Linked DNA regions of Homo sapiens. The protein of the gene in region 1 purifies or fractionates together with the protein of each later gene. This does not show direct contact. Each region holds a gene or a part of one and is shown on either strand. Other genes may lie near its edges. The genes, in order: TRMO, STAT5B and RHPN2.

Region 1 (11,282 bases):
AGTCAGGAGAAGCACTTGACCCTGGGAGGCAGAGGTTGCAGTGAGCCAAGATCACGCCACTGCACTCCAACCTAGGTGAGCGAGACTCCATCTCAAAAAAAAAAAAAAATCACAATTTTTTTAAGTAATAACATATTTCAAAAGAAAAAAAATGGCCAGACACTATCAATATAAAGTCCAAGGTTTCCATGGCTACCACTTTGAATTTATTGATAACTTTTTTATTATTCTCACATTTCATGACAGCGTTATCAATTTCTGAGAGATGATATAAAGACACTTCAGACTTTATTTCCTGCTTCCTTAAATCTACCCTACCAGCATAAGCAGTAAGACTATAGGTCTGGGGCTGTCCCTCACAGTATCTTTCATTACTCTTCACTTCTAGAAGCTACTTTATTTGATATATATAAATATCATATGCAACATACATGTAAGTTATACGGCATAATATGATGAAACCCCGTGTATACACCACCCATCCCAAAAACTAGAGCGTTACTAACGACTTGTTCTTTTTAGGTTGTTTTTCTCTTACCTCACACCCTTCTTTTCCCTCTGAGATAAACAGAAGCCTGAATTTGATCTTTATCATTCACTTCCTTTTAGAGAATGATTTTGTTACATGTACATGCATGCCTAAACAGTATTTCATTGATTTTTGTCTTTAAGATCTATAAAAACTGGCACCAAACTGTAAGTTGTCTTCTCAGACTTGCTTTTTCTCTCTCAATATTATGAGGCTAAGATCCATACATACTCTGTATGTTTTTGACAACTTTAATTTTTGTTCAAGTATGTTTACAGGCATTGTTTTTAGTTTTTTGTTTTTTCTTTTTAATCCTCATCCATGCTTCTATGGAACAGATATAGTAGACATCTTAAAAATGAAGAAACTGAGGCCAAACGACCTGGCATATCTTCTTTATGTCTGGAAGATAAATGGCCAAAAAAGACCCCTAGCCCAGCCACAAAATCCCTGTGTCTTCTTTTCATTTGTTCAAGAAACATTTTCTGGCTGATACTCTGGGCACACTGCCCATGAGTTAGCTCTGCTCCACAAAGAGAAGAAAAAAAAAAGAAAGAAAGAAAAGAAAAGAAAAGAGAAAAGAAAAAGGAAAGAAAAGAAAGGAAAGGGAGGAAAGGGAAAGAAAGGAAAGAAAAGAAAAGAAAGAGAGAAACACTATTTTCCAAGTGTCTACAATTGCCAGACATTGTGTTAAGTTTGGAGAAAAGATACAAACCAAGAACTCTTACTACAGTGGAATTTAATAGTTGAGGAGACTATCACACCATGCTTCAATATCATGGGAAATGTCCTGTCAGCAGTAAAGTAATCAAAGACTTCTGCCCTTGACTCTTTGATTTGGGGCCTAGGAATTTATATTATAGCTGATTTATCACTTCACTAAATCAGTCTATGCCTGTTTTTCACAGATTACACATATGATATGATAAATATAAGTGGCTGCCAATTAGATTTACTTCTATCCTCTAATTAGATTTACTTCTATCCTCTTTGTGCATCTCCTTAAGAACATAAGCAAGACAACACTGGATTAGCAATGAACTGGAAGTATACTCAAGAGCTACTTTGAAAGAGTTCTTCTAACTCTGCTACTCTAAAATGTTTGGGACCACTCTCAAAATACCAAATATCCATATCCTAGTACGTCTGAACTCTTCTGGGACATATTTATACATTCTCTGTGCCCTCCTGGGGATAATGCTATGAAATATAAATGCTATTTGAAGCAGAGACCTGACACCGTTTGCCAAGGGGAATTCTGGTCTTCTTCTTCTTGCCTATCTCAAAACGACAACAACAAAAACCCAAAAGAACAGTAAACACCTACCATTTTGGTAAGCACTGTGCTAAGGACTTGGGGTACAAATATGAACCAGTTCTCGTCCTCAAGGGTTTCCAGTACATTGACAGAGAAAGACAAGTAAATCAACAATTCTAGCTAGGTGCCTTTGCAGGGATAGAGATAAATAAGCACAGGTATGACAAAAACCAGCACAAGAACCTCATGGAAATGGGGAGAAGTGGTTCCTCAAAGGAGCATGAGAGAATTAGGACTGGTTTCAGAATGGAGAAAGGATAAAAACAACACAGGGCCACTACACTAGCTGTGTGACCATGGGAAAAACTAGCTTCTCTCTCTGAATCCGTTTTCTCATCTATAAAACAAGGGATACTACCTACTTTGGAAAGCTGTAAAAGTACTAATAAAATAGGAAAGCATCCAATAAAATAGAAGGTGCCCAGCAAGGAGTGCTTTTTAAAGTCCCTGCTCAGGCTTTTTCCTCATTTAAACATTACAACTGTATTAACTGTGTAATAAGTAAAAAGCCAGCAAGCAATCAATGTGGGGTTTTTTGTGTACAGGATTGTCTACACGTCTTGCTCTGAAAATAAGTTCAGGTCCTTTTCATTTCCACCTGTACTATTAAATTACCCTTCTTAGGCTTTCTGTCCCCACTGCAAGTTCTTCCCCTTCTCAAAATACTCTAGACGAATCCTCAACACTCCTAGAGTTTCTTGTGTTATGCTAACTCTTTAACTTTAAACTTTTCATATTCTCCACTGTTAACAGACTTTGTATTTCTTAGCCTGGTACTCAAGTTTCTTCACAATCAGAATCCAAAGGTTCCCACCTCCCTGTTCCATCCAACACTTTAGACTTCTAGCTCCCCAAACCTATACTGTGTAGACTTCTGAGCCCTGGCTTCTGCGTTTTCCTTCCTGTCAAAATATGAGACCTGTAATCGGCAGTGTGCAACAATTTTTTTTAAATAAGCACATTTGGCCAGGTAATAGCACTTCCAAGAAATTTAACAAAGTTCAAACTTTAGAATGTACACAAACATTTCGGCTTCAAGAGCTTTCTTTTAGAACAATGCAAACTGGCAATAACTTAAATGCTCAGTAACAGGAAGCTGGTTAAATTAGAGCACATATCTAAAACAAAGCGTTAGGCTGGTTGCAGTGGCTCATGCCTGTAATCCCAAAACTTTGGGAGGCTAAGGCAGGTGGATTGCTTAAGCCCAGGAGTTTGAGACCAGCCTGGGCAACACGGTGAGAGCTTGCCTCTACAAAAATTAATAATAACAAAACAAAGTGTTAATTTTTTTTTTTTTTTTTTGAGACGGAGTCTCGCTCTGTCGCCCAGGCCGGAGTGCAGTGGCGCGATCTCGGCTCACTGCAAGCCCGCCTCCCGGGTTCATGCCATTCTCCTGCCTCAGCCTCCCGAGTAGCTGGGACTACAGGAGCCCACCACCACGCCCGGCTGATTTTTTTGTATTTTTTAGTAGAGACGAGGTTTCACCGTGTTAGCCAGGATGGTCTCGATCTCCTGACCTCGTGATCCGCCCACCTCGGCCTCCCAAAGTGCTGGGATTACAGGCATGAGCCGCTGCGCCCGGCCCAAAGTGTTATAATTAACATTAACTGCCCTGTTAAGATTTTTTTTTAAATTATTTTAACGTTACTAAACAGGTCGTATAGTACCTCACTTTCCAAGTGTGTATGCAAAGAAACAAGCGTGGAAGGTAGACACCAAGATATTGACAATGGCTTTCTCTGGCAGGTTATTTTAATTTTCTTCCATTTGCTTTCCAGTTTCTAAAGCTAATATATTCCTCTATGAAAACGTGTGAGTAAAGAGAAACAAATTCATGCCTTGTCTTTCTAGGCCCAATTTAAAACTATTTTCTCCCCCAGAAACTTTCCCCCTTCTCTGTCCTCATTCCTACAGCGCAGGATGCCTCTCTATGGCATTTATTAATTCCTAACCCGCCTAACACCATCTCCCATACGCTATGGCAAGGAAACCCCTAAGAGAAAAGCCCCTACGCTGCACGTAGCTGCTCCAGCTACTGAGCCAAGACTACGCAGACAGTACAAGTCTTATAACAAAGCGGAACAAGCCAGATGACGTCATCCCGCTCGCCAAAGCACATCACGTGGTCTCCGCAGCACGTGACCCGTGCCTTCGCCGTAGGTAAAAGAATGACGCACGTCAGTTCCAGATCGTGCGTTTTACACCCCTCTCGGCAACGAAGTCCGCTGCCTGGGCCTAAACCTCTCCAGAGTGTGGCACCGCCGGTGTTGGAAGTTACCTGTCTCCAGAGCCGGCTTAACGCAGCCGCACGGGGTCGCTGTAGGCCGAGGCCCCGACTCCTCCAAGCCGCGCATGGCTACTGGTTGCTGAGGTGCCCACCCGACGCATTCAACCTTCCGCTTCCGCTCTCCATGCCTGACGCATGCGCAGTGGCCTCGCCGGCGAGGTCCCGCGAACCCAGGAGAATGTGCGCGCGCAGGGTGGCGTTGAGGGAAGCTTTGAGTTCTCCATGGGGCTTCGAACCCTATCCCGGGCGTGTGCCCCTCCGGGACCCCAATCTCGTTTATCTTACACACAGCTGCTACAGTTGCCCGCCCTCCTAGGGTAGAATGCGACTCCGGCTTCCCGCGCTTTTTGAGAGGGAACACACCTCCATGAAGAACTCGCAACTATGTCTCTCTCGAAACATTATTAAGTAACCTATACGTCCAGTATGACCCTAATTTTTAAGGGATGTGTATATGTAATTAACACAGAGCGGAAGGACTGGACGTTAAGAAATGTTAAGAATTCTCAGGCACCTGTGGTCCCAGCTACCCAGGAGATTGAGGCGGGAGGATCGCTTGAGCCCAGGAGTTTGAGGCTGCAGTGAACCGTGATCGCGCCACTGCACTCCAGCCTGGGTGACAGAGCGAGACCTCGTATCAAAAAAAAAAAAAAAAAAAAAAAAAAAAAAAAAAAAAAAATTATCCCTGGGTGGTGGGAAATTTTTCCATAATATAAGTTATGCTTTGTCAGAAACAACCCCAAATAAGTCTTATTTCAAGTGTGGTGGATGTTATAAAGGAGCCCTACTATGTGCTAGGGGTTAAGGAGTGGGAACTGTTTCTTGTGCTCCACACCTTACCGGAACTGAAGTGAGAATGGAATTATAAGAGTCAACATGCCATGTGCATTGTGGGGATTATTGTCGTTTCTGGACAGCTCTGAGAAGCTAAGAGCTAACAAGAATCATTTAATCCCATGCAATGACCAGTTGTCCTTGCAATGATAGCCTATCTTTTACCCACTTGTAATGCTGTCTCTCACCTTTAGTAAGTTTCTCTGTATATAATTCTCTTTCTGGGAGAAATTTTAAAATCTTTTATCTTTTTATCTGTTAACATCTGCAGTATAAAATATTCAAAAGCATATGAGTCACAGATTGAAAAGTCTAACAACCATGAAAAGATGTTTCCATGTCTGTCCATTTGTCATTGATTTCTGGTAGAAAATAACCAGCAGGAGGAGCCAAATAATTAAAGATTGTGGTTTAAAAAATAAGATAAAACTGATCAAATTCATATAGTGTCTTTTGGCAGGTCATTTTTACAGGACAACTTGGAAAAGGCTGCCATTTTTTTTAGGAGGGACAGCTCTGTGCAGCTGGAGAAACAAGTTTGAAAATCATTGTTTTATATATATATAGCGCGCGCGCGTGTGTGTGTATGTGTGTGTTTATAAAACTGGGCCAGAATTACTGCGCTTGCCACTAGATGGTGGTGTTGCTAAAAATGATAGTCCCGCTTTATCTGTGGAAAGACTAGATTTAAAGAGATATTTGCCCTCCTGGAGGGCATGGTAGACGTTGTTAATCACACAAAAAAATATGTAATTACCAAGTGTGACAAGTACTGAAATGCAAAGCTGATTTGAATATACTAGGGAAATAGATTGCTACTTCTTTTATAGGTAAAATTTCTCTTGACTGAAAACGGGAACTTAAATATGCAGCACATTTTTTAGTCTATGATTTGAAGTTCTTATTATCTTGTCTGGAATTATATGTGATTATTTGCAGTTTATAAGACTTAACCTCTCCTCCAGATGTAAGACCTAGAAATCTGCCTTAAAGAAATGACCTAAATAATTATGTAGTCTTCAGCTTGTACTACTTTGAGAAACACTTCTCAGTAGAGTGATTCTTAACCTCTCATTTGGGTGAAGGACCCCTTTGAGAATCAACTAAAGCTTTGAACCGTCCCACACATCATTTTGGCTATAATATCATATGGTTCATGGGTTTCTAACCTAACATGAGAGGAGGGCAGCACAAAGTCAAGCTAGAAGGATTCTTGCAAAACTTTAATTCTGTCACCTAAAGGTTCTAAGCCAAGAAGAACGCCAGAAGAATTTTAGATGCACAGTGATGTTTAAACAAGAATGGTGAGAAAGCAGAAGTGGTGTGTGAATGCAGGGAGTGATGTAAGAGGGCAAGCAGAAAGGGTCCCGAGAGGTGGAGAGAGAAATTCTGCTTCCTCTAATGTACTGCATTCCTCTTTCCCTCTCCTTCCCCATCTCATCTTTGTGCTCCTGTGCACTGTACGTATGCAAATCTCTTAAGGTCCATCTTAATGCAACGCTGTTAGAACTTGAGACTTCAGTTTACTCTTTTTTTTCCTCTAATTTTGGCCCACTCTGGCAGGTGAAATTGAGACAGAAGCACATTCCAAAGAAGAAAAAAAAGCACTGAGGAAGTCAGATGTGACTTTGGGTGAGTACCTTCCCTCTATGTTATTCCCTCATCTTTAAGTGAGAGTGATAATCACCGCCTGGCCTATTTCACATACTTTTGTACAGATCAAATAAAATAGTTTATGTGAAAGTATAAATGTTGAAGTGTCATTGAGAGGTAAGAAACTATTATATGGTTGTGGCCGGGCGCGGTGGCTCACTCCTGTAATCCCAGCACTTTGGGAGGCCGAGGAGGATCACGAGGTCAGGAGATTGAGACCATCCTGGCTAACATGGTGAAACCCCGTCTACTAAAAATACAAAAAAAAAAAAAAAATAGCCAAGCGTGGTGGCGGGCGCCTGTAGTCCCAGCTAGTCGGGAGGCTGAGGCAGGAGAATGTCGTGAACCCAGGAGGCGGAGCTTGCAGTGAGCCGAGATGGTGCCACTGCACTCCAGCCTGGGCGACAGAGTGAGACTCCGTCTCAAAAAAAAAAAAAAAAAAAAGAGACGAAACTATTATGTGGTTGTGCTGCCCTGCCCTCAGTATGTTGTGTAATAAATATAATAGGGGTATGAATAATTGTGCAATGAATACATCCTGATGGTAAAAAATTTAATGTACACACAAAAGGGGGTAGGCAGATAGGAGGGAAACAATATTGTAACATCCCACTGTACTATTGGTTCTCAACCCTACCTCCACTTTAGGATTGTCAGGAGAGCTTTTAAAATAAAAACATCCTAAATGCAATTCTATATCCTGGATTGGACCCTGAAGCAGACAAAGCACATTAGTGGAAAAATTCATGAAAACGGAATAATGTCTGTAGTTAATGGTAGTGTAACTATCCTGATTTCTTAGTTTTGACAAATGGCCCATGGTTATGTAAGACGTTAACATTGGTGTAAACTGGGCGAAAGGTATATAGTAACTTTTGTACTATCATGACAACTTTTCTGTAATTCTAAAATTATTCCTCCAAAAACTATTATTTGAAGCATAAAACAATTAAAAAATAAATATACCTATGCCTGTACATCAGCTAGATGGGGGAATCTGAATCCCTGGGGGAGAAGTCTGGACATATATGTATTTTTGAAACCTTCCCAGGTGAGTCTAATGTACCAGAAGGGTTGAAAGAACCACTGCTCTCTCATGTTCATTATACCATGAATGCCTGAGGGACTGTGACCCTGTCTTGTTCTTTGATATAGCTAGTACCTAGCACAGTGTCTATATGGAAAGCTTGTGCAAGTGTGTTCTTGCTGAATGAAACTTTATTTGCAAAAATATCCTTAGTCCTCTGTAATAACAGAAGGAAAAGTGAAAACAAAAAATACCAGGGTAGATTTTCAGACATCTTCCCATCCAGAACAGCTTCTATTCCTGCCCCGGTCTCTTGTCGTTTTCAGTTAATCTTTACCATTATCACCATATTTACCATATTCCTAAAATAGTGAAATTGCCATTCCATTGTTCAAAAATCTGACTTCATTCCCCATTTTTAACAAGTGATATATTTCTTGGTTAGGTAAGCAAAATATTCTATGCTCTAGTAATATGAGCTTTTCAGCATGCAAGCCTACTACTATTTCATATGGACTCTACATTAACCATAGTTTGCCTGCAGTTCTCTTGAACATGTTTTGAACTCACCCTTCTCTTTGTCACATACAGTAATGCTGCTATCCTCATCTATGCAAATACTTTCCGTCTTTCAAGGCTTCATGCCTGTGTAATTTTTTCAGGTCACTCCAGCAAAAAGTGAGCATTCTCTGTTTGTATCTACCATTCAAATGGCACCAGCCCTTACTATTTTCTTTTGTGATTATTTGTTTTCTGTTTTATTTCCCCATGAAACCAAATTAACCCCACCGTGGGGTGTTAGATAGGTCTTCTAACCTCCGCAATTCTTAACATGATGGTATCCACACAGTTAAGCATGTAATAATGATTTAATGTACATTGTGCACAAATACAATATTTAAAAAATAAAAATAGAAAATCAAAATTCAAATACAAAAGTAAACTACATTCATCACTCCAAAATATCTTTTAAGGAGAATTGTTAAAACTGACCAAAAGAGTCAACTAAAGCCTGAATAAAATTTTGATGCTACTGTTACATTAATAATTGAACAGCATTTACAAGAAAACTATATACTCCACAAAATGTATGTGTTCAGTCTTAGTCACTTATCTGCTCTTAAGACGTAAATAAATGTTCTTAGGGGGGAAAACCAATTATCCAGTCCTCCCCGCTTCCTTATTTGTCTGTTCCCACCACTATCCTCTCCCCGACCTATACATACATACACACACACACACACACACACACACACACATTCTAGCATGATATTGTCTATGTGGTAGAGCCTTAAAAAATGTTATTTCTTTCAGATATGGTCTACAAATAGAAAAAATAATATTAATGAGCATTGTCAAAAGTTTTACAATATTTTGAGAAAATCACGCATAAACTATTAAGCTGTATGTTCCATTGGACCACAACTTTATGGTTGAGCATTGTTAAAACAAAACATAACTATAGACATCATTTTCTGGATGACTCTCATTCAGAATTGCTGGTATTCCTGGCTCTTCTTTGGGTTTTTCTTTCATTTCTGTAAAATCAAATAAAATAAAAAATAGATTCAATAAATTGTATTGGGACAATTGACTCTCCATTTGGAGGAAGAAAAACTGCTTTACAACATACACAACAACAAACCGTAGATGGGGTAAATTTTTAAATACCATAAAGTTATAGAAATAATAGTGTTTTTAGTAATCTTAGGATGCTAAGCAGAACACAGAGACCAGAAACCATAAAGGAAAAGACTAGCAAGTTCGAATACCTAAAAAGTAAAATTATATATGGTGAAAACCACTATAAACAAAGTTAAACCAAATCAAAGACAACTGGAAAAATATTTGCAACATATACATAGTAAAAACTATTATTTAAAGAGGTTTTTTAATCGGAAAAAAGAAATAAAAAATGTTGAATGGGATAAGGATTCAAACAGGCAATTCTTAAAAAATTATATTTATAATAATCCTGAAAAGATGTCTAGTAACATTAATTATAAAAGGGGGTGATTAAGACCATTAGGTGTGTTTTATTTTTTAACCTATCACTTCTCAGCCTTTTGGCTAAGATCAAGTGTATTTTTTTTTTTTTTTTTTTGAGCCGGAGTCTCGCTCTGTCGCCCAGGCTGGAGTGCAGTGGCGCGATCTCTGCTCACTGCAAGCTCCGCCTCCCGGGTTCACGCCATTCTCCTGCTTCAGCCTCCCGAGTAGCTGGGACTACAGGCGCCCGCCACCGCGCCCGGCTAATTTTTTGTAATTTTAGTAGAGACGGGGTTTCATCGTGTTAGCCAGAATGGTCTCGATCTCCTGACCTCGTGATCCGCCCACCTCGGCCTCCCAACGTGCTGGGATTACAGGCGTGAGCCACCGCGCCCGGCCGATCAAGTGTATTTTTTAACCTAGCAGACAGACAAGGATTTTTAAAATGTCATAATGTACAGTGCTGACAAGGGTGTGGGGAAAAGGCACCTGTCTCGTGTGAATTGCTACCACATTTCTGGAGGCTAGTCTGACTGACTGTATATTCAAACTTTAAATTTGGGTACCGTTTGGCCCAACAATTTGATTTCTAGGGGTTGATTCAAAGGAAATAATCAGACAAACTTCAGCCTCCAGTGCCTCCATTTCCTTATATTTAGAATGGGAGTATTATTTATCCAGTAGAGCTTTTAACATTGAATAAAATAAACCACATAAAATATTTAATATGGTGTCTGGCACATAGAAAAGTACCAGATAAATGTTAACTAAATAAATGTTATTCCCAATGATGTTCATTGAACATTGTTGTAATAGTAAAACTTGGCAGTAACCTAAGTGTTCATCCTTATAGAGACTGGTTGAATATACATATAGCACAGTACTATGCAGTTGTTACAAAAGACATCATAAAGATGGCTGCAATACATATTGTAAATGAAAACAAAAACAAGTTACAGGATAGGATGGGTACTGTCTCATTTGTTGAAACAAAACAACCTTAACATTGGGAACTGAAGATAGAAGATGGTATTATAGGGGACTTTTACTTTACTTGATATTCACTTACATATTGCTTTATTATAATGAACACTTACTACTTTTATAATCAGGAAAAATAGATATTCCCATTTATTTGGTCAAACAAAGCCAAAAATAAAATAAGCGTTAATTAATTGACCATATCGACCTTGCTGGGTTTAGAATGAAGCAGTTAGGAATCAGGACGCTGTGTTGGTTAGAGCTGCTTCTCCAGCAGGGTACTCCTGTCAGTGCACGTACTGCTTCACATGCCTGCTTTTGCTGCAATGTATTTCTTTAAAGTAGTTCTTCAAAACTGGTATTACTTGGAAACCAACTAGCACCATGTTTTTGTTGCACTCATCTTTTAGGATAAAGAGCAAGTAAACTACTAAAGGGATTTCTTTAGAAATCAGTTTCCTGGGGATAACTATGGTCTGATAGACTCAGTCCATTTCTTATACTGTCTACAGTATTGTACAAAGAGAGCTGAAGTTCTCAGTTATGTCTCTGAGGCAAGTGAAATTAAAGAAAGGTTGCATTATTTTCAAATTCCTATACTTAGGAAAAAGTTTTTCAGGAACAAATCTTGAAATAGAAAGGGTTTTTGGTAAACCTGATAAATCCT
Region 2 (10,320 bases), on another chromosome or scaffold:
AAAGTGCTGGGATTACAGGCGTGAGCCACCGCACCCAGCCTTTTTTTTTTTTTCTTTTAAGAGACAGGGTCTTACTCTGTTGCCCAGGCTGGAGTACAGTGATGTGATCATGACTCACTGTAACCTTGAACTCCCAGGGTCAAGTGATCATCCCACCTCACCCTCCAGAGTAGCTGGGACTACAGGCGCACACCATGAGCACCACCATGCCCACCTAATTAACTTATTTATTTATTTATTTACTTAGAGACAGGGTCTTACTATGTTGCCCAAGCTGGGCTTGAACTCCTGGCCTCAAGAGATCCTCCTGCCTGAGGCTCCCAAAGTGCTGGGATTACAGGCATGAGCCACCGCACCCAGCCAAAAGTTATTAAAAACTTTAATTCACAGAAAATGAACCAGCAAGCTACCCTTATTGTGAGGGTCAGAGGAGAGAACTAACTTTCCTGATGCCCTGGTGCAGTGGCTCAAGCCCGTAATCCCAATACTTTGGGAAGCCAAAGTGGGGGATTGTTTGAGCCCAGGAGTTCGAGACCAGCCTGGGCAACATACAAAAAATTTAAAAATTAGATGGGTGTGGTGGTGCACGTCTGTGGTCCCAGCTAATCGGGAGGCTAAGGGAGGAGGACTGCTTGAGGCCAGGAGGTCAAGGCTGCAGTGAGCCATGTTTGTGCCGCTGCACTCCAGCCCGGGCAAAAGAGTGAGACCCTGTTTCAAAAAAAGAAAAGAACTAACATCTTGGGTAGAAATGGTTGATGGCAATATCCATATGTTAATTAGGATAAAGGAATATTTTTACTACTGTAAGAACTCCAAATCATCAAATTCTTCACTGAAATAAGCTTTATGCAGAGTAGTACAATAAGGCAAACATTTTAAGAGGGAAGCAACTGAGATTCTGCACGGACTCTTGTATCATAGGTAGCCATGTCATGGTTAAATGTTCATGTGTAACCATGCTGCCATATACTTTCATGTATAACCAAATTAGCAATTGTGTTTCCCATAATAGTATTTTTCATAGGCTGCCTTATTATGAGTATGTCATGGCTATACATTTATGTTTCCCATAATTAGTACTGACCTCAACAAATAGTAAGTACCCACTAAATTATTTGTTAAAATAATTTTGTAACGAAAGCAGCTAACTTTGGACATAAGAAGGGAGGGGCACTCACGAGAATCAAACTTCCAAGCAATGGTGATGCCGCCAATTTCTGAGTCACTGAATCTCAGGAGGAAGGTCCCATCTGGCTTGTTAATGAGTAGGTCATGGGCCTGTTGCTTGTTTACAAACCCCAAAATGGCCCTGGATCACCAAGGACAAAGGACAGAAGCAGAGTGTGACTTACGATGCCAGAGAGAAGACCTTCAGACTCTGTCGGCGCCTTAAGAAATAATGATTCTCACCCATCATTCCAATGAGGCTTGAGATGTTTTTTTAACACTTCCATCACACCGTCAAACCATTGCCAGAAAGTGTAATTCCGTCCTGGTAAATTCTCCTGGTTGGAGATACAACAGTGAACATAAGAACACCAGAGTAACACTTGGAATATTATACACATATTTAATTGGAAAAATTAAATGGGAAACAAACATCTACCCTTGTCAGAGGCATACAAATATCCCCGCCTACCTGAGTTTTACCTAATGGCCCCATGGAGAGGAAAAGAGGGAAGAAGGGGAAAATACCAAACTGCAGTTACCAGCACCCAGTGGGCTCCTGCTACAGACACTTTCACCTGGGACTGGGCTGACCCGTCCCTTGCTAGTTTCGATGTGTGGTCTGTGACCAGAAGCATCAGTGTCACCTGGGAGCTTCTGAGAAATGCACGTTGTTAGGCTCCAAATTAAACATTTAAAACACCTTGGGGGTGGGGGGTGTAGGAAAAGAAACAAAAATTAAATTCAAATCAAGGTGATAGCCGGGCATGGTGGCTCACGTCTGTAATCCCAGCACTTTGGGAGGCTGAGGTAGGCAGATCACTTGAGGTCAGGAGTTTGAGACCATCCTGGCCAACATGGTGAAACCCCGTCTCTACTAAAAATACAAAAATTGGCTGGACATGGTGGCGGGTGCCTGTAATCCCGGCTACTCAGGAGGCTGAGACAGGAGAATCACTTGAATCTGGGAGACGGAGGTTGCAGTGAGCCCAGAATGTACCACTGCACTCCTTGTGACAGAGCGAGACACCATCTCAAAAATAAATAAATAAACAAAAATAAATAGGGTGGGCACAGTGGACTCACGCCTGTAATCCCAGCACTTTGGGAGGCCGAGGCGGGCAGATCACCTGAGGTCGGGAGTTCGAGACCAGCCTGACCAACATGGAGAAACCCCGTCTCCACTAAAAATACAAAATTGCGGGGCGTGGTGCCGCATGCCTGTAATCCCAGCTACTCGGGAGGCTGAGGCAGGAGAATCGCTTGAAACCAGGAGGCGGCGGTTGCGGTGAGCCAAGATCGTGCCATTGCAGTCCAGCCTGGGCAACAAGAGCGAAACTCTGTCTCAAAAAAAAAAAATGAATAAAAATAAAATCAAAGTGACGTCTGAATTAGCAGATGCTAGAGGAGGAGTTTCTTTCATCAGCATCCCTCTTTGTGGGTTGAGGGTCCCATAGGAGCCTGATCTGGCATTACACATGGGGAACATAAGAGAGTAAAGGGGAGAGAGGCCCAGAGTTCGCATCCCCTCAAAAGCTTTGCTTCTCATGAGCTATGTTAACATCTGCTTTGCTCTATTTCCTTTACAAAGGAAGAAAATGCATTAACTGTAGACAAAGGTCAACTTATTTAAAATATGCAAAGATGTAATTTTCTACACGTGACCTGGGTAACTCTCAAGTTGTCCATCTAGTCAGAAGCTTCTATTACTTTCGGTACATTTTATTAGAGACATGAAGAATAAGGGCCCAGGGCAGGGAGACTCCTGAGAGCATCTGGTTGGGAAGGACTGATCTAACAGCGGCTGGCAGCTGGGCTCCTCACCCTGTTGAACTGGGACCAGGACACAGACAGGCCACTGTAGTCCTCCAGGTGGCTGCTGCTGTTGTTGAACAGTTTCTGCGCCAGGAACACGAGGTTCTCCTTGGTCAGGCCCCGGTTGCTCTGCACTTCGGCCTTGAATTTCATGTTGAGCGCCTCACACAGCTGTGGCCACAGCACTTTGTCAGGCACGGCAAATGGCACCCTGCCCTGAGAGGGAGAGAGGCCAGAATCTGATGAGAAAACAGTTGCATGATTTATTCCCTCAAGCCACAAAAGAAAAACGCTGATGGCTGGGAGTGGTTACACACATTTGTCTTGCAGGGCCTGAGGATAAATTCAGACTCTGCTGGGGTACACGGTTCTGTGAAATTCAGAAGGTTCCGTTTCACCTTCTTTACACACAACTAGAAGGTAACCCATGCTATCCATGCTGTTTTGTAAATGAGCTGCTGAACTAACAGTCAAATCCTATGTTCTAACGGCCACAAACCAAAACATAACCAAGGTCTGGCTCTTAGATTGTAAACACCTTGGGAATTTAGAAATCTGAAAGACTGGTCCTCTAGGTACAAACAGAGAGAGTGTGCGTATGTGTGCACACGTGTCGGCATGTGTGTACACACGTGGAATCATTGCCCTCGACTCCTTCTGCCAAGAATTCTAGCTCAAAGTAAAACAACTTGGTATGGAAGAGTGGAAATTTTGAGTTGGATGGCTTTATTGAGAAATAGGTTAGAAGATTAACTTTTAATAAACTGCTTTTCAACCCGTTCAGCCATAGTACTCCATTTTATTTTGTTACAAACACTTTTTTCAATAGGTGATTTTCACATGATTTAAAATTCAAAAAGCACAGACGGCTACACAGTGAAGTCACTCCCTATCCCTGTCTCCCAGCAACCCAGTTCTTTTCTTTAAAGGCACCTAACACAGTTTCTTGTGTATCCCACCAAAGATATTCTATGCATGCCAGCAATGACATATACCTTTTCCTTTTCTTCACAAATGACAGCACAAAATCCACATGTTCTGCATCTTCCTCTTTTCACTTAATCCTCTATCTGGGAGACCTCCCATCAGCACATAAAGAAATTTCACCAGACCCCCATAGATGGGCATCAGTGTTACAGCCTCATCTTTAGCTATTACTAACAATGCTGCAATGTTCTTATGTTATTTGACCCACAGGACACATAGGCAAATATATATGGAGAATAAATTTCCACAATTATTTTTTTTTTTAGGTAAGGTCTCGCTCTGTCATCCAGGCTGGAGTACAGTGGCCCAATCTTGGCTCATTGCAACTTCTGCCTCCTTAGCTCAAGTAATTATCCTACCTCAGCCTCCCAAACAGCTGGGACTACAGGCGTGCACCACCATGCCTGGCTAATTTGTGTGTTTTTTGTAGAGACAGGGTTTTGCTATGTTGACAAGGCTGGCCTCAAATTCCTGGGCTCAAGAGATCCGCTTGCCTTGGCCTCCCAAAGTGCTGGGATTGCAGGCATAAACCACTGTGCCTGGCCACAAGTCTTTATTATTTATTTTTTATTTTTTATTTTTTTGAGACAGAGTCTCACTGTGTTGCCCAGGCTGGAGTGCAGTGGCACCATCTCAGGTCACTACAACCTCTGCCTCCCAGGTTCAAGCAATTCTCCTGCCTCAGCCTCCCGAGTAGCTGGGATCATAGGCACGCACCACCACGCCCAGCTAATTTTTGTATTTTTAGTAGAGATGAGAGTCTCACCATGTTGGCCAAGCTGGTCTCGAATTCCTGACCTCAAATGATCCACCCACCTCGGCCTCCCAAAGTGCTGGGATTACAGGTGTGAGCCACCGTGCCCAGCTGAAAGTCTTTTTTTTAACATAGCATAAGGTCGGCTGGGTGCAGTGGCTCATGCCTATAATCCCAGCACTTTGGGAGGCCGAGGTGGGTGGATCACTTGAGGTCAAGAATTCGAGACCAGCCTGGCCAACATGGTGAGACCTGGTCTCTACTAAAAATATAAAAAATTAATTGGGCGTGGTGGCATGCACCTGTAATCCCAGCTTCTCGGGAGGCTGAGGCAGGAGAATCGCTTGAATCCAGAAGGCAGAAGCTGCAGTGAGCCGAGATAATGCCACTGTACTCCAGCCTGGGTGACAGAGCAAGACTCTGTCTCAAAAAAATTAAAAAAAAAAAAATAGCATAAGATGTAAGTAGTCATTAACATAGCTGAGAATGTTAAAAATGCTTATTTATTTAGACAAGATACTTGAGTAATTACATGGTGCAGGAGATGCCAAAGGTACACAGAGAGTGAGATCTGTGGACAGGCAGGGAAGGAAACAAGAGATGTGGCAATCTTATCTAGGAGGCTTATCAGGACAAGAGGCAGACAGACAGTTTCAAAAAGGAGCTTCTGATTCAGAGTTTGTAAGTGAAGTATGGTAAATCTCTTAAAAATCTCACCTTTGCAGTAAAATACTTTTTCTCTAAAGAGGAGTGTTGGGAAACGTTAAGCCTCTCCACGTGAGCCAGAAGGTTCCATTTCACCTTCTTTACACACAACTGGAAGGTAACCCATGCTGTCCATGCTGTTTTGTAAATGAGCTGTTGAACTAACAGTCAAATCCTATATTCTAACAGCCACAAAACAAAACATAATCAAGGTTTGTTGGATATACTTAGAGAAGGACATGCTCTTATGTCCCAAATGATAACCCTTTTATCATGCTTTTATGGACTAATCTCTATTGGAAATATGTAACAAATGACCTTTGCCTACTAAAAAAATTTTTTTCTTTGAGACAGGGTGTCGCTTTGTCACCCAGGCTGGAGTACAGTGGCACAATCTTGGCTCACTGCAGCCTGGACCTCCTGGGCTCAGGCGATCCTCCCGCCTCAGCCCCCCCCAAGTAGCTGGGACTAGAGGCTGGTGTACCATGCCTGGCTAATTTTTTGGTATTTTTTGTAGAGACAGGATTTTGCTATGCTGCCTAGGCTAGTCTGGAGCTCAAGGGATCTGCCTGCCTTGGCCTCCTGGAGTGCTGGGATTATAGGCATGAGCCACCGCACCCAGCCTATGAGATCTTTAAAATGCTCATCGAGCAGCATGCTAGTGGGATTCAGATAGCGTTTGGGTGCATAAATCCACCAAATTATATCTTCCTTGAGGCAAAGTATCTCATTCTTCATGAGACCTAGAATGAATCACAGAAACTAAAATTTGGAAAAGACATTTAACAGCATCTTCATTTATTGAAAGGAAGAGGGTATGAAGCAACTTCTATGCTAAAGTAAGCCTCTGGAGAGATCTAACCTCTGGAGTGAACCTAGGAGTCCCAAATCCCATTCATAGTTTCACCCAAGGATTCAAAATAATATTTACTGAGTACTGACTGTGTGGCAAGCATTTTCTATGTTATCTAATTTAATCTTCCTAACAATGCTGTAGAGCAAGAGTATCCCTGTGCTGCAGACACTTGCTGGAAACTCAGGCTCAGAGAGGTAAAGTGAACTGCCCATGTGGTCATGGAGTGAGGAAATGGTGGAGTCTCAGTTCAAACCCTGGCCCGATGTCAAGCCCATGTTCTTTCCACTTTCCACATTCTTTCTATTCTGCCTCCCACTAAAGAAAACAGCGTCTTTTTTCCTATGCTTTTTTTTTATTATTGAGATGGAGTCTCACTCTGTCACCCAGGCTGGAGTGCAGTGGTGCGATCTCGGCTCACTGCAACCTCTGCCGCTCGGGTTCAAGTGATTGTCGTGCCTCAGCCTCCCAAGTAGCTGGGACTACAGGCATGTGCCACCACACCCAGCTAATTTTTCGGTATTTTTTAATAGAAACAGGATTTTGCTATGTTGGCCAGGCTGGTCTCGAACTCCTGACCTCAGGTGATCCAACCGCCTCGGCCTCCCAAAGTGCTGGGATTACAAGTGTGAGTCACTGCACCCGGCCTTTTCCTATGCTTTTTAAAAGGATAATACATAAATGAGATTCATGACACCGGCATTGATTTTGGGACCCACATGCCCGAGGAATACACTCACAGGCTCTGCAAAAGCATTGTCCCAGAGAACAGTGGCCGTCGCATTGTTGTCCTGGCTGCCATGAACGATCACCACCACTGGCAGGGACAGGGTCTAAAAAGACACAAGAGAAGGCTGAGCGCCCACGAGCCTCAAGTTCTTCTCCTTCTCTCTTTTTTTTTTTTCTTATTATAACAACACTTTTATTTTCCAAGTTTCAGTTAATGTTCCTCTCAGACACAGAATCTAAATGGCCCCAGGAATAATATGACTTTTCATACTGGCACAATCTTAGAAATTTTAAATATTTTACAAGCAATGTTGCTTAGATATTTCTGAAGGATAAAGTTTCTCAAAGTTACATGGAGAACAGGAGAGAGAAAAGACTATTGGAGATATTTCTGGGAAGAAAATACAAATAACAAATTTAAAACTTACCACAACCTTTACTCAAATTCATCCCAAGTAATGTTTCTCATATCCATTTTGTAGTCTACCTCTCCAGCTAGTTCAGTTCATTATTGTTTGTTCATGTTTTATTTTTTATTTTTTAATTTGTTGTTGTTGTTGAGACGGGGTCTCACAACCAGCTCCAGGCTGGTCTGGAACTCCTGAACTCAAGCAATCCTCCTGCCTTGGCCTCCCAAAGTGTTAGGATTACAGATGTGAGCCACTGCACTGGGCCTTGCTTGTTCATGTCTTTTTTTTTTTTTTTTGAGACAGGGTCTCACTCTTTCACCCAGGCTGGAGTGCAGTGGCACAATCTCGGTTCATTACAACCTCAGCCTCCCAGGTTCAAGTGATTCTCCTGAGTAGCTGGGATTATAGGCACGTGCCACCACGCCTGGCTAATTTTTGTACTTTTTAGTAGAGATGGGGTTTCACTGTGTTAGCCAGGCTGGTCTTGAACTCTTGACCTCAAGTGACCTGACTGCCTCAACCTACCAAAGTGCTGGGATTACAAGCATGAGCCACTGTGCTTGGCCTCTGTTCATGTCTTAAGAGAACCTAAGTGAAACAGTTCTCAGGGTGAGGTCAGTCCATTTTCAGTTTACCAACAGTCAAAAAGAAGAAGATGCTATGTGATAAAAAAAAAATATTTTGTAACATAAAGTACACCACACACACACACGCACACGCACACGCAGAGCTGAGGGAAGGCTTTACCTTGACTTGAAAAACCAGCTCATTTCCACCAACACTGAACTGGGATTCAAACAGGATTGTAAATTTTTCTTCTGTCACCGACTCTGCCCCACGACGGTCTGACCTCTTAATTCGTTTCAGGGACTACAAAGAAGAAACATAAGATGAAACGTAAGATATAAGTTGTTCCCCTCAAAGACCAGGGAAAAATTCATTCTTCCTCTTCTTCCACCCTCACCATATTCCTGAAGTGGGCACTAAGGGTGCCTGTGGCTTGGTGGTACTCCATGACGCAGCAGTTGTTCAAGATCTCGCCACTGTAATCACTGCAAATCAGAGAGAGACCAGCTCCAAACCCATGCCAGGGTCTCAGGACATGCGGAGTAAATAATATAATTTGGGGTAGCAGGAAATAGAGAAGTTTGCTAAAAATGTACGTCATTTAGAGGAAATGTTAGCTACATAACACATACATGTAATCTTCTCGGACGTATCTCTACAAAATGAAACAAGATCAAACTATCTTCACAGAAAACAGTTCCTAAGAGAACTTTTTTTTTTTTTTTTGTGACGGAGTTTTGCTCTTGTTGCCCAGGCTGGAGTGCAGTGGCGTGATCTCAGCTCACTGCAATCTCAGCTCACTGCAATCTCTGCCTCCCAGGTTCAAGGGATTCTCCTGCCTCAGGCTCTCTAGTGGCTGGGATTACAGGTGCCTGCCACCACGCCCGGCTAATTTTTTGTATTTTTAGTAGAGACAGGGTTTCACCATGTTGGCCAGGCTGGTCTTGAACTCCTGACCTCAGGTGATCTGCCCACCTCGGCCTCTTAAAGTGCTTGGATTACAGGTGTGAGCCACCACACCAGGCCCAAGAACTTCCTTATATTCCTTTGCTGATGCCCAGAAGAGGCCAGAAGGGCAAACAGGGATCTGACACAGGAGGCAGAATTCTTTTTTTCCTGTTGCCAGGACATGAGACAAGTAGCAGGGAATGAGAGGAAGCTGCACAATTACTTGCGGGTGTTCTCGTTCTTGAGCAGAGACTTGGCCTGCTGCTCACTGATGATGGTGGCCTTCACCTGGGGGGGGTTCATGTGCACGTTCAGCTTCCCGCCCACCAGCAGGCGCACAGTGGCTGCAAACTTGGTCTGGGTCTTCAGGACCTGAGGAGGCTGCTTCTCAATGATGAACGTGCTGCAGGGGACACAGGGACAGATGCATGATGAGGGGCTGGTGCAGGGGAAAGGGCTCTCAGTCCCTCTGTGGTGGGGGTGGGGCTGCCTCCCGAGGGGCTCAGGAGGTGAAGAGCTCGGGCACAGCCTCTGTTCCTGGGGAAGCCGTGAGAGTCCAGGGAGAGGATGGAGAGGGGAGTGAGATAACACAGAAGCTGGCATGGGCTGCAGCCCAAGGGCATCTCTTGCAGTGTCCACAGGAGAAACTGGGCAAGGGCCACAGCAACTGGAGATGGAGTTGGGAGGGATGAGAGGCAGGAAGTGGATCTGCTGGTCTGGAAGGCACCTGCGGCTCCCCCCACGCAGGCAGGAGCTGCCCCAAGCTCCTGGGCATGGCAAACAGGCAGCAGTCACCTGGTCACCAGGGCTGAGATAATGTCCGTGATGGTGGCGTTGACCTCGGCCAGCATCTCCTCCACTGGGCCGGGGATGGGCAGCTGCTGGCAGAGGTGCTCAGCCCTGCGGATCTGCTGCCGGTTCTGCCAGATGATCTCGGCCAACTTCTCACACCTGCACGAGAGCCCCAAGGCCAACAGGAGGACAATGGCTCCTCCGCACAGACGCCAGGCCCCAAGACACAGCTCCCGTTCCCCCAGGAAGGCTCTGTGCTTTCGCCACACTTCCCACCCATGGGAAGAGCAGAGCTCCCTGCCTCCCAGAATTAGAGACGTACACAGGAGGGGCGACCCTGACTAGGCCCAAACAGCCCAAGCATCACCCCACACACCCGAACCCTGTCCCATCTCCAGGACAGCAGCCCCCTTCCTGGGGGAGGTGCACAGGATGGGGGCCAAAGTCTGATTGAGGAACCAGGCTCCCTGGAGAAACAAGAGCTGTCCCAGGATGGAGGGGGCCTGCTGCAGGAGCCAGCACAGGACGCAGAAGCAGCCGGGATCCCCACCAGCCCCTCCTGCCCTGCCCGCTGGCCGCCCCACACCATTACC
Region 3 (10,320 bases), on another chromosome or scaffold:
AAAGTGAGACCCTGCCTCAAAGATAAAATAAAATAAAATAAAATAAAGTAAAATAAAATAAAATGCCTTTATAACATGGTTAAGGGTCTTCTTGGCAAAGGAAACCTGTATCTGGAGACTGTTATTGACAGTCCTACCCTCAGGATCTGTGCTGGGAAACTTGTCCGGGTCCTGAGGGAGGCCCAGAATTGCAAGTCTGAGCCCCTGAATAGCTGCAGTGTTTGCAGTATAGTTGAATGTATAGGCCATAGACTGGTCTCGAACTCCTGGGCTCAAGTGATTTACCTGCCTGGTCTTCACAAAGTGCTGGGATTACAGACGTGAGCCACGATGCGCAGACACAAAGACATTTTTAAGCAAAAAATTTACTTCAACTCTCACTTTTACTGAAGCAGCACAACATTTAAAAACATAGGCGTGTGTTGCAGTGGCTCACACCTGTAATCCCAGCACTTTGGGAGGCTGAGGCAGATGGATTGCTTGAGCCCAGGAGTTTGAGACCAGCCTGGGCAATGTGGTGAAACCCCATCTCTACTAAAAATACAAAAATTAGCTGCGCATGGTGGCACATGCCTGTAATCCCAGCTACTTGGGAGGCTGAGGCACGAGAATCACTTGAGCCTGGGAGGTGGAGGTTGCAGTGAGCCGAGATCGCAAGATTGCACTCTAGCCTGGGCAACAGGAGTGAAACTCTGTTTTTTGTTTTTTGTTTTTGTTTTTTTAAAAAAAAACTATGGCCGGGCACGGTGGCTGACATCTGTAATCCCAGCACTTTGGGAGGGCGAGGTGGGGGGATCACCTGAGGTCAGAAGTTTGAGACCAGCCTGACCAACATGGTGAAACTCTGTCTCTACCAAAAATACAACAATTAGCCAGACATTGTGGTGGGCGCCTGTAATCCCAGCTCCTTGAGAGGCTGAGGAAGGAGAATTGCGTGAACCCGGGAGGCAGAGGTTGCAGTGAGCCGAGATTGTGCCACTGCACTCCAGCCTGGGCTACAAAGAGAGACTCCGTATTAAAAAAAACTACATAAATTAAGAAAATAAATTCCCCCACTTTGAAAATCACTATAAGTTTTTCTTTATTCTGCCTTTTTAAAAATGGGTTCACAATTGACATATTACTATTATGCACACATATGGTTTTCAGCCACACTTTATAACATCTGACCTCATTTTTCTTTAAGGATTTTATCCTGGAACATTACAGTGAAGATGGCTATTTATATGAAGATGAAATTGCAGATCTTATGGATCTGAGACAAGTAAGTTTTTGTGTGCAGCAGAGAGGGGAGGGTGGCTTTTCCGAGTCTTCAGGGAACCCCATTATTGCACGCTTGTGGTCTTAACAGAATCGCGGGTGGATAGAGGTGATGGTTGGGGGGTGCTGGAATCATCCATTCCACTTGCTGCATAAGAAAACTGTAGAAGGAGGCCAGGCGCGGTGGTTCATGCCTGTGTAATCCCAGCACTTTGGGGTGTGGAGGTGGGCGGATCACCTGAGGTCAGGAGTTCCAGACCATCCTGGCCAACATGGTGAAACCCTGTCTCTACTAAAAATACAAAAATTAGCTGGGCGTGGTGGTGCATGCTGGTAATTCCAGCACTTTGGGAGGCTGAAGCGGGTGGAACACCTGAGGTCAGAAGTTTGAGACCAGACTGGCCAACATGGCAAAACCCTGTTTCTACTAAAAATACAAAAACAAGCCAGGCATGGTGCTACACGCCTGTAATCCCAGCTACTCGGGAGGCTGAGGCAGGAGAATCACTTGAACCTGGTAGGTGGAAGTTACAGTGAGCCAAGATCGCACCACTGCACTCCAGCTTGGGTGGGTGACAGCAAGACTCTGTCTCAAAAAAAAAAAAAAAAAAAGAAGGAAAACCATAGAAGGGGAGAGCCCTGCCTCAGGGCTGGGACTGGATTCCAGGATTTCTGACTTCCTCCCAGGTTCTTTCCACCCCTCCCAGAGTTTACGATGCCAGTAGCGAGGTCATCATACTGCAGAAATAGTTACAGGCACCTGCTGGTATGTGCAGGGCACCTTCTGGGAAGGGCCATCAGCTGTGTCCTCCTCTGCTCATGCCCTCTTGGGTTCTTTTCCTTGCAGGCTTGTCGGACGCCTAGCCGGGATGAGGCCGGGGTGGAACTGCTGATGACATACTTCATCCAGCTGGGCTTTGTCGAGAGTCGATTCTTCCCGCCCACACGGCAGATGGGACTCCTGTTCACCTGGTAGGTGCTTGAGGTCTGCGCTGGCGCTTCACGTGTTATGGCAGCCACAATTTTGGAGCCTCAGCATCACAGACGCCCCTCTGCGGGTGCCCCTGTGCACCTCAGCCCCCTTTCCTATCTTGCATTTATCTGGGGAAGTCTCAAAAGATGTCAATACATTGGTATTTATTTATGAAGGTGATCCGAGGGGAGATGGCTCCAACAGACTGTGGCCTCTTGCTTCTCAGAACAAGCGAGCCAAGGAGAAGAGACATTTTTCTTGCTCGTTGTATCACTGGGGAAGCACGGGGGCTCTGAAGTGGAATTAGCCAGAAGCGAGATTCTTATCTCAGATTGGACAGGGGCATGCATGTGTATGTGTGAGTGAGAGAGAGAGAGAAAATCAGGTCTTATCCAGTGAGGCAAAAGCACCAAACAGAAATAGATCAGGTTTCTTTTGAAATGGGGTCTCACTGTGTTGCCCAGGCTAGTCTTGAATTCCTAGGCTCAGGTGATATTTCTGCTTCAGCCTCCTGAATAGCTGGGACTATAGGCATGAGCTACTCACTCAGCTTAGATCAGATTTAAAAAAAGGAAGTAGAGCATTTGATTCTTCTCCACAATTGGTATTTTCAGACAAGATCAGGCACGTCAGGGTGGTATGGCCGTAGACCCAATTGGTATTTTCAAAGGTTAGTATAGTTTAAATACTTGGGAGGCCGGGTACAGTGGCTCACACCTGTAATGCCAACACTTTGGGAGGCCGAGGCAGGCAGATCACTTGAGCCCAGGAGTTTGAGACCAGCCTGGACAATGTGGCAAAACCCCATATCTACAAACAATACAAAAATTTGCTGGGTATGATGGTATGCACCTGTTAGTCCCAGCTACTTGTGAGGCTGAGGCAGGAGAATCACTTGAGCCCGGGAGGCGGAGGTTGCAGTGAACCGAGATCACACCACCGTACTCCAGCCTGGATGATAGGAGTGAAACCCTTTTTCAAACAAGAAAAAAAAAGGCTGGGCGTGGTGGTTCACACCTGTAATCCCAGCACTTTGGGAGGCCAAGGCAGGCAGATCACGAGGTCAGGAGTTCGAGACCAGCCTGTCCAATATGGTGAAACCCTGCTTCTAGTAAAAAGTACAAAAATTAGCAAGGCATAGTTGCGCGTGCCTTGTAGTCGCAGCTACTTGGGAGGCTGAGACAGGAGAATCGCCTGAACCCGGGAGGCAGAGGTTGCAATGAGCCAAGATCACACCACTGCACTCCAGCCTGGGTGACAGAGTGAGACTCTGTGTCAAAAAAAAAAAAAAACAACCTAAAAAAAAGTACTTTGGAGATGCTGCACCCCTTCTCTGAGTGTCGTTAGGAGTGTCAGTGAAAGGAGAACACATCCTAGAAGATCAGGGGCATATCAGAATTCAATGTTTCTACAGCTGATGGGTGGCTACTAATGCCTTCCTCATGGAAAGCAAAGGAAAGGGGGATGACTTTTCCTAACAATGCACCAGGCTGTCTGCATGGCCGAAAAGGCGAAAGGTGGTTTCTCCTTAGTCATGAATTAGGGAGAAGCTGTCTGCACACCCCCTGGTTCATGAGTAAACTTTAAAACAAGTCCTAGGGCCAGGTGCGGTGGCTCACGCCTGTAATCCTAGCATTTTGGGAGGCCGAGGTGGGTGGATCACCTGAGGTCAGGAGTTCAAGACCATCCTGACCAACACGGCGAAACCCTGTCTCTACTAAAAATACAAAAATTAGCTGGGCATGGTGGTGGGTGCCTGTAATCCCAGCTACTTGGGAGGTTGAGGCAGGAGAATTACTTGAATCCGGGAAGTGGAGGCTGCAGTGAGCTGAGATGGCGCCACTGCAGTCTAGCCTGGGCGAAAGAGCAAAACTCTGTCTCAAAAAATAAAAAATAAAAAAAATAAAAATAAAACAAGTCCTAGGCTGGGTGTGGTGGCTCATATCTGTAATCCCAGCAGGTTGGGAGGCCAAGGTGGGTGGATCGCTTGAGCCCAGGAGCTTGAGACCAGTCTAGGCAACACAGTGAGACCCTATCTCTACAAAACAATTAGAGAAAATTTGCCGGTCATGGGTGGTGCATGCCTGTAGTCCCACCTACTTGGGAGGCTCAGATGGGAGGATCTCTTAAGCCCAGGAGGTTGAGGCTGCAGTGAGTCATGATCATGCCACCGCACTCCAGCCTAGGCAACAGAGTGAGACTTTGTCTGAAAAAATAAAAAGTAAAACAAATTAAAACAAATCCTGAGTTTTTAGATTTCAGAAAGAATTATGAGGGGTTAGTAATTGCCATATTTCATTTAGGAGAAGCCATACCGCCTTGGCCTCCCAAAGTGCTGGGATTACTGGCATGAGCCACCGCTCCCAGCCCATTTTTTTTTTTTATAATTGAAGAACTTACCTGACACATCATTATCACCCAGAGTCCATAGTTTCCATTAGGGTTCATTCTTGCACTTGTGTATTCTGTGGCTTTTGGCCAACATAGAATGACAGTGATCCACCTTTGCAGTGTCATACAGAAGAGTTTCACTACTGGAAAAATCCTTTGTGCTCCCCCTCCCTCCCTCCCCCTAAGTCCTGGCAACCCCTGATCTTTCTTCTGTCTCCAGGGTTTTGGCTTTTCAGAATGTTGGAATCACACAGCGTATACAGTAGGTAGCAATGTTCAGGTTGGCTCTTTCACTTAGTAATGTTTCCTCTGCATCTTTTCATGGCTTGCTGGTTCATTTCTCCATTTTTAGTGCTGAGTAATATTCCATTGTCTGGATGTCCCATGGTGTGTTTATCCAGTTACCCCGTCAGATATTTTTGTGTGTGGCTGTGGCGGTCAGTGTGATTAGTCCTGTCATCTTGCTTGGAAACAAAAGCCTCAGTGCACATGCATTCTTGACTTTTACTGAAGAAATGAGTTTGTTGTTGTTGTTGTCGCCCAGGCTGGAGCACAGTGGTGCGATCTCAGCTCACTGCAACCTCCGCCTCTCGGGTTCAAGTGATTCTTCCGCCTCAGCCTCCTGAGTAGCTGAGATTACAGGCGCCCGCCACCATGCCTGGCTAATTTTTGTATTTTTGGTGGAGACTGGGTTTCACCATGTTGGCCACGCTGGTCTCAAACTCCTGACCTCAGGTGATCCACCTGCCTCGGCCTCCCAAAGTGCTGGCATTACAGGCGTGAGCCACCGCACCCAGCCAACCCAGGAGTTTGACAGCAGTTTGGGTAACATAGACCCCATCTCTACAAAAATTAAAAAAAAAAAAAAAGGCAGGTATGGTGGCATGCACCAGTAATGCCAGCTATTCTCATGAGGCTGAGGTGGGAGGATCAACTGAGCCCTAAAGTTGAAGGCTGCAGTAAGCTATGATCACACCACTGCACTCCAGCCTGGGCAACAGAGTGAGATATTGACTCTTAAAAAAAAAAAAAAAAAGAATTTTTTCCACTTGTAGCATTAACTAGCCAAGTAATCTGTATTCTCGGAATGCATTTCTTTCACATAGGTATGACTCTCTCACCGGGGTTCCGGTCAGCCAGCAGAACCTGCTGCTGGAGAAGGCCAGTGTCCTGTTCAACACTGGGGCCCTCTACACCCAGATTGGGACCCGGTGTGATCGGCAGACGCAGGCTGGGCTGGAGAGTGCCATAGATGCCTTTCAGAGAGCCGCAGGTATGTCTCCTCCAGGGCTGACCAGACGGAGCCTTGGCCCCACCCGGTGGCACCAGGGGACCCCCCACTGAAGAGAATCTACAGGTCATCCCTCGCAAGGGCCAGACCAGTCTCCAGCTCTGGTGTAACTTCCCATTAAGAAACTTGCTCCGGCCGGGCGCGGTGGCTCACGCCTGTAATCCCAGCACTTCGGGAGGCCAAAGCGGGTGGATCACAAGGTCAGGAGATCGAGGCCAGACTGCATCTCAAAAAAAAAAAAAAAAACTTGCTCGGTGGTTCAGACCTCAGTCTGGGATGGCTGATGTACATGGTGAATCCTGTGGCTGACGATCTTTTCCAGACAAGTGGCCCCTGGGATGGCAGTGCATAACTGTTTCTTTCAACACTGTCATGAAGAGCAGAATAACTTTTCCCAAATAGTGAAACTGTAGGCTTCTTTTTCTTGTATTAGGTGTACCTTATCAGTGCGTATTACTCTCCGTGCCTTTATTTATTTATTTATTTATTTATTTATTTATTTATTTATGAGATGGAGTTTTGCTCTTGTTGCACAGGCTGGAGCGCAGTGGCATGGTCTCGGCTCACTGCAACCTCCACCTCCTGGTTTCAAGCAATTCTCCTGCCTCAGCCTCCTGAGTAGCTGGGATTACAGGCACCCGCCACCACACCTGGCTAATTTTTGTATTTTTAGTAGAAATGGGGTTTCGCCATGCTGGCCAGGCTGGTCTCGAACTCCTGACCTCAGGTGTTCCGCCTGCCTCAGCCTCCCAGAATGCTGGGATTACAGGCATGAGCCACCGCACCCTGCCCCTCCATGCCTTTATATCACCTGCATTCTGCCAACTTCTCCAGCATGAGGTGGGTGTTCTCAACCCTTTGTCAAGTGATGCATTCAAAGGATGTCTCATAGCTCAGTTCCCTTCTTCTGGGAACTGTCTTTTGTTATTTTATTTTATTTATTTGTTTATTTTGAGATAGAGTCTTGCTCTTGTCACCCAGGCTGGAGTGCAGTGGCACAATCTCTGCTCACTACGACGTCTGCCTACTGGGTTCAAGTAATTCTTCTGCCTCAGCCTCCCAAGTAGCTGGGATTACAGGCGCCTGCCACCATGCCTGGCTAATTTTTGTATTTTTAGTAGAGATGAGGTTTTGCCATGTTGGCCAGGCTGGTCTCAAACTCCTGACCTCAGGTAATCTTAGTATGAGAATGAGGTGCGGTGTTGAGGAGAAAAGCAGCCTAGTGCTTACACCTATAGAGGACTGGGGTCAACAGACCCAGCGCTGTGGGTGAGCCTGGCTTGGCTCACCTGTGCCTGCGGGTTCTGCCTTGCTCCCCCATAGCAGGGCTGTGTCTGGGTCAGACTCCACGTGGGGATGGATGCAAGAGCAGGGCACAGTGTAGACCACAGTGTGTTCCCCACGCTAGCTCTATAGCGTGTTGCCTTCTGGGCTGATCATCGACATTCTGCTTTGGGGTGTGATCCCCTTCCACCCGTGTGGATCATTGTTTGATATCACTTTGCCCTGCAAGCTTGTGAAGAACCATAGCTTTGCCACTTTGACTCATCGTGAAATTTCTGATGTTATAATGATTGGTCCTACCAGCCTGGGCCACACAGGAGGACCCCATCTCTACAAAATATTTAAAAATTAGCCAGGCGTGGTGGTGTATGCCCGTAGTTCCAGCTACTCCAGTGGCTAAGACGGGAAGATCACTTAAGCCCAGGAGTTTGAGGCTGCAGTGAGCTATGATTGCACCACTGTACTCTAGCCTGGGTGACAGAGTAAGACTCCATCCCTAAAAAGAATTTTTTTTTTTTAAATTAATGAAATAGGCTGGGCATGGTGGCTCATGCCTGTAATCCCAGCACTTTAGGAGGCTGAGGTGGGTGGATTGCTGGAGCCCAGGAATTTGAGATCAGTCTGGGCAACAAGGCGAAACTCCATCTCTACAAAAAGTACAAAAGTTAGCTGGGCCTGGTGGTGCATGCCTGTAGTCTCAGCTACTTGGGAGGCTGAGACAGAAGGATCAGCCGAGGTTGTGGTAAGCCAAGATCGCGCCATTGCACTCCAGCTTGGGCGACAGAGCAAGACCCTGTCCCAAAAAATAATTAATTAATTAAAAAAATAAAAGATTGGTCTATCGGGATGAAGCGATATGCTAAGATTCCAAGTATGAGTTGATTTCTTTTGCTGTAAATCTTTTTTCTGGACTCATCTTTCTGAGGAATCTTAGGCAGGCACTCTGTGTCCTGTCTCTGAGATTATATCAATGGAGACAAACTATAGACGAAATGAAGCAAGTAGGAGAACAGTGGGGAGTGTGAGGGAACCCCCATGGAGCTCGCAGCTCAAAACAGCAGGTGCCATCCCTCCGCAGGGCAGGGCTTTTTTTTTTTTTTTTTTGCTCAGCAACAAAACCAGAGGAACCAGTTGGATGGGATTCATATGAGAGATTCTATTTCAGTTCCAGATTGATTGTCAGTTAGCGCTTTGGACAGTTAATTTTCTAAACTACAAAGAAGTCAGAGGAAGGCTGCAGCATGAAAATTTCCATTGGAGCAGACGGATTGAGATTTTTTTTTTTTTTTTTTTTTTTTTGAGACAGAATCTCACTCTGTCGCCCAGGCTGGAGTGCAGTGGCGAGATCTCGGCTCACTGCAGCCTCTGCTTCCCGGGTTCAAGTGATTCTCCTGCCTCAGCCTCCGGAGTAGCTGGGATTATAGGCGTGCACCACCACACCTGGCTAATTTTGTATTTTTGGTAGAGATGGGCTTTTGCCATGTTGGCCAGGCTGGTCTTGAACTCCTGACCTCAGGTGATCCGCCCACCTCGGCCTCCCAAAGTGCTGGGATTAGAGGCATGAGCCACCACGCCTGGCCAGAATAGATCTTTCTTGAGGTCCAGGGGAAAAGCCCTGGACTGCTGAATGACTCAGATCTTATGTGTGAGCCTGGTCCCCTGTGAGCCCCTTAGTCCTTCTGCCTGCCGTCTGCTTGCATCTCCATACCTGTCGTGATGGAATTTTGTCCCAGGTGACACAGGAGTTGTGGGGAGCAGGCTGGTTTCTTTACTCAATAGAGATGTGTTTTGGAAGGTAATCCAATTTTTAAAAATTGGGTTAAAAGGCTGGGTGGGGTGGCTCACGCCTGTTATCCCAGCACTTTCAGTGGCCGAGGCAGGCAGATCACCTGAGGTCAGGAGTTCGAGACCAGCCTGGCCAACATGGTGAAACCCCGTCTGTACTAAAAATACAAAAATTAGCTGGGTGTGGTGGTGGACACCTGTAATCCCTGCTACTTGGGAGGCTGAGGCAGGAGGATCGCTTGAACCTGGGAGGCAGAGGTTGCAGTGAACTGAAATCACACCACTGCACTCCAGCCTGGGTGTTTATTTATAAATAAATAAATAAATAGTGTTAAAATATACATATATAACTTAAAATGTACTATTTTAACCAGTTTTTTTATTATAGTAAAATAACACAGAACATAAAATTACCATTTTAATTATTATCTTAAATTTTAAAAATTTTAAAATTATCCTGCCAACCAGAAGCACATTTTAACCATTTTTAAGTGTGCAGTTCAATGGCATTAAGTGCATTTGTACATTCATAGTGTTGTGCAGCCATTACCACTAAACATCTCCAGAAGTTAAAAACTTTTTTTGTTGGTTAGGCAAGGTGGCTCACACCTGTAATCTCAGCACTTTGGGAGGCTGAGTCAGGAGGATCACTTGAATCCAAGAGTGGAGACCAGTCTGAGCAACATAGGGACACCCCATCTGTACAAAAAATTTTAAAATTAGCTTGGTGTAGGGTGGCACATGGCTGTAGTCCCAGCTCTTCAGGAGACTGAGGTGGGAGGACCGCTTGAGCCCAGGAGTTTGAGGCTGCAGTGAGCCATGATTGTGCCACCGCACTCCAGTCTGGGCAACAGAGTGTGATCTTGTCTCAAAAATAAATAAAATAAATACATTTTTAAAAAGTATATATTTTTTAAGAGACAGGGGTCTCAGTACGTTGCCCAGGCTGGTCTTGAACTCTTAATGTCAAGCAACCCTCCCACCTCAGCCTCCTTTATAGCTGGGATTACAGGCAGCAGCCCCTGTGCCCAGCTATCTCCGGAACTTTTTCATCATCCAAAGCAAAGCTCTGTACTCAGTTAAACAATAACTTCCCATTGCCCGCTTTTCCAGCCCCAGCTAACCTCTATTCTCCTTTCTATTTCTGTGAATTTGACTATTCCGGGTACCTTATCTAAATGGAATCCTACAATATTGGTCCTTTTGTGACTGGCTTGTTTCACTTAGCATAATGTCCTTATTTACACTGTACCATGTGTCAGAATTTCATTCCTTTTTAAGGCTGAAAAATATTCTGTTGTATGGATAGGCCACATTGTGTTTAATCATTCATCTG

What was found.
Region 2: the proteins of TRMO (region 1) and STAT5B purify together in Homo sapiens (affinity purification with mass spectrometry; 2 studies listed by BioGRID and IntAct, with this or other methods). This does not show direct contact.
Region 3: the proteins of TRMO (region 1) and RHPN2 purify together in Homo sapiens (affinity purification with mass spectrometry; 3 studies listed by BioGRID and IntAct, with this or other methods). This does not show direct contact.

What each region holds. Positions count from the first base shown.
Region 1 is NC_000009.12:97,918,293-97,929,574, forward strand, and holds the start of TRMO (tRNA (adenine(37)-N6)-methyltransferase), read right to left. Parts: upstream 4,209-11,282; 5' UTR 4,202-4,208; coding exon 4,126-4,201; intron 3,890-4,125; exon of another isoform or gene 3,515-3,889; intron 1-3,514. Other genes in the region: HEMGN (hemogen), read right to left, coding at 9,092-9,186. UniProt on the Homo sapiens protein: S-adenosyl-L-methionine-dependent methyltransferase responsible for the addition of the methyl group in the formation of N6-methyl-N6-threonylcarbamoyladenosine at position 37 (m(6)t(6)A37) of the tRNA anticodon loop of tRNA(Ser)(GCU).
Region 2 is NC_000017.11:42,208,993-42,219,312, forward strand, and holds part of STAT5B (signal transducer and activator of transcription 5B), read right to left. Parts: coding exon 10,320-10,320; intron 9,887-10,319; coding exon 9,731-9,886; intron 9,339-9,730; coding exon 9,159-9,338; intron 8,473-9,158; coding exon 8,385-8,472; intron 8,291-8,384; coding exon 8,168-8,290; intron 7,115-8,167; coding exon 7,022-7,114; intron 5,611-7,021; coding exon of another isoform or gene 5,590-5,610; exon of another isoform or gene 5,540-5,589; intron 3,199-5,539; coding exon 2,992-3,198; intron 1,506-2,991; coding exon 1,411-1,505; intron 1,310-1,410; coding exon 1,179-1,309; intron 1-1,178. UniProt on the Homo sapiens protein: Carries out a dual function: signal transduction and activation of transcription. Mediates cellular responses to the cytokine KITLG/SCF and other growth factors. Binds to the GAS element and activates PRL-induced transcription.
Region 3 is NC_000019.10:33,003,591-33,013,910, reverse strand, and holds part of RHPN2 (rhophilin-2), read left to right. Parts: intron 1-1,186; coding exon 1,187-1,264; intron 1,265-2,107; coding exon 2,108-2,232; intron 2,233-5,730; coding exon 5,731-5,897; intron 5,898-10,320. UniProt on the Homo sapiens protein: Binds specifically to GTP-Rho. May function in a Rho pathway to limit stress fiber formation and/or increase the turnover of F-actin structures in the absence of high levels of RhoA activity.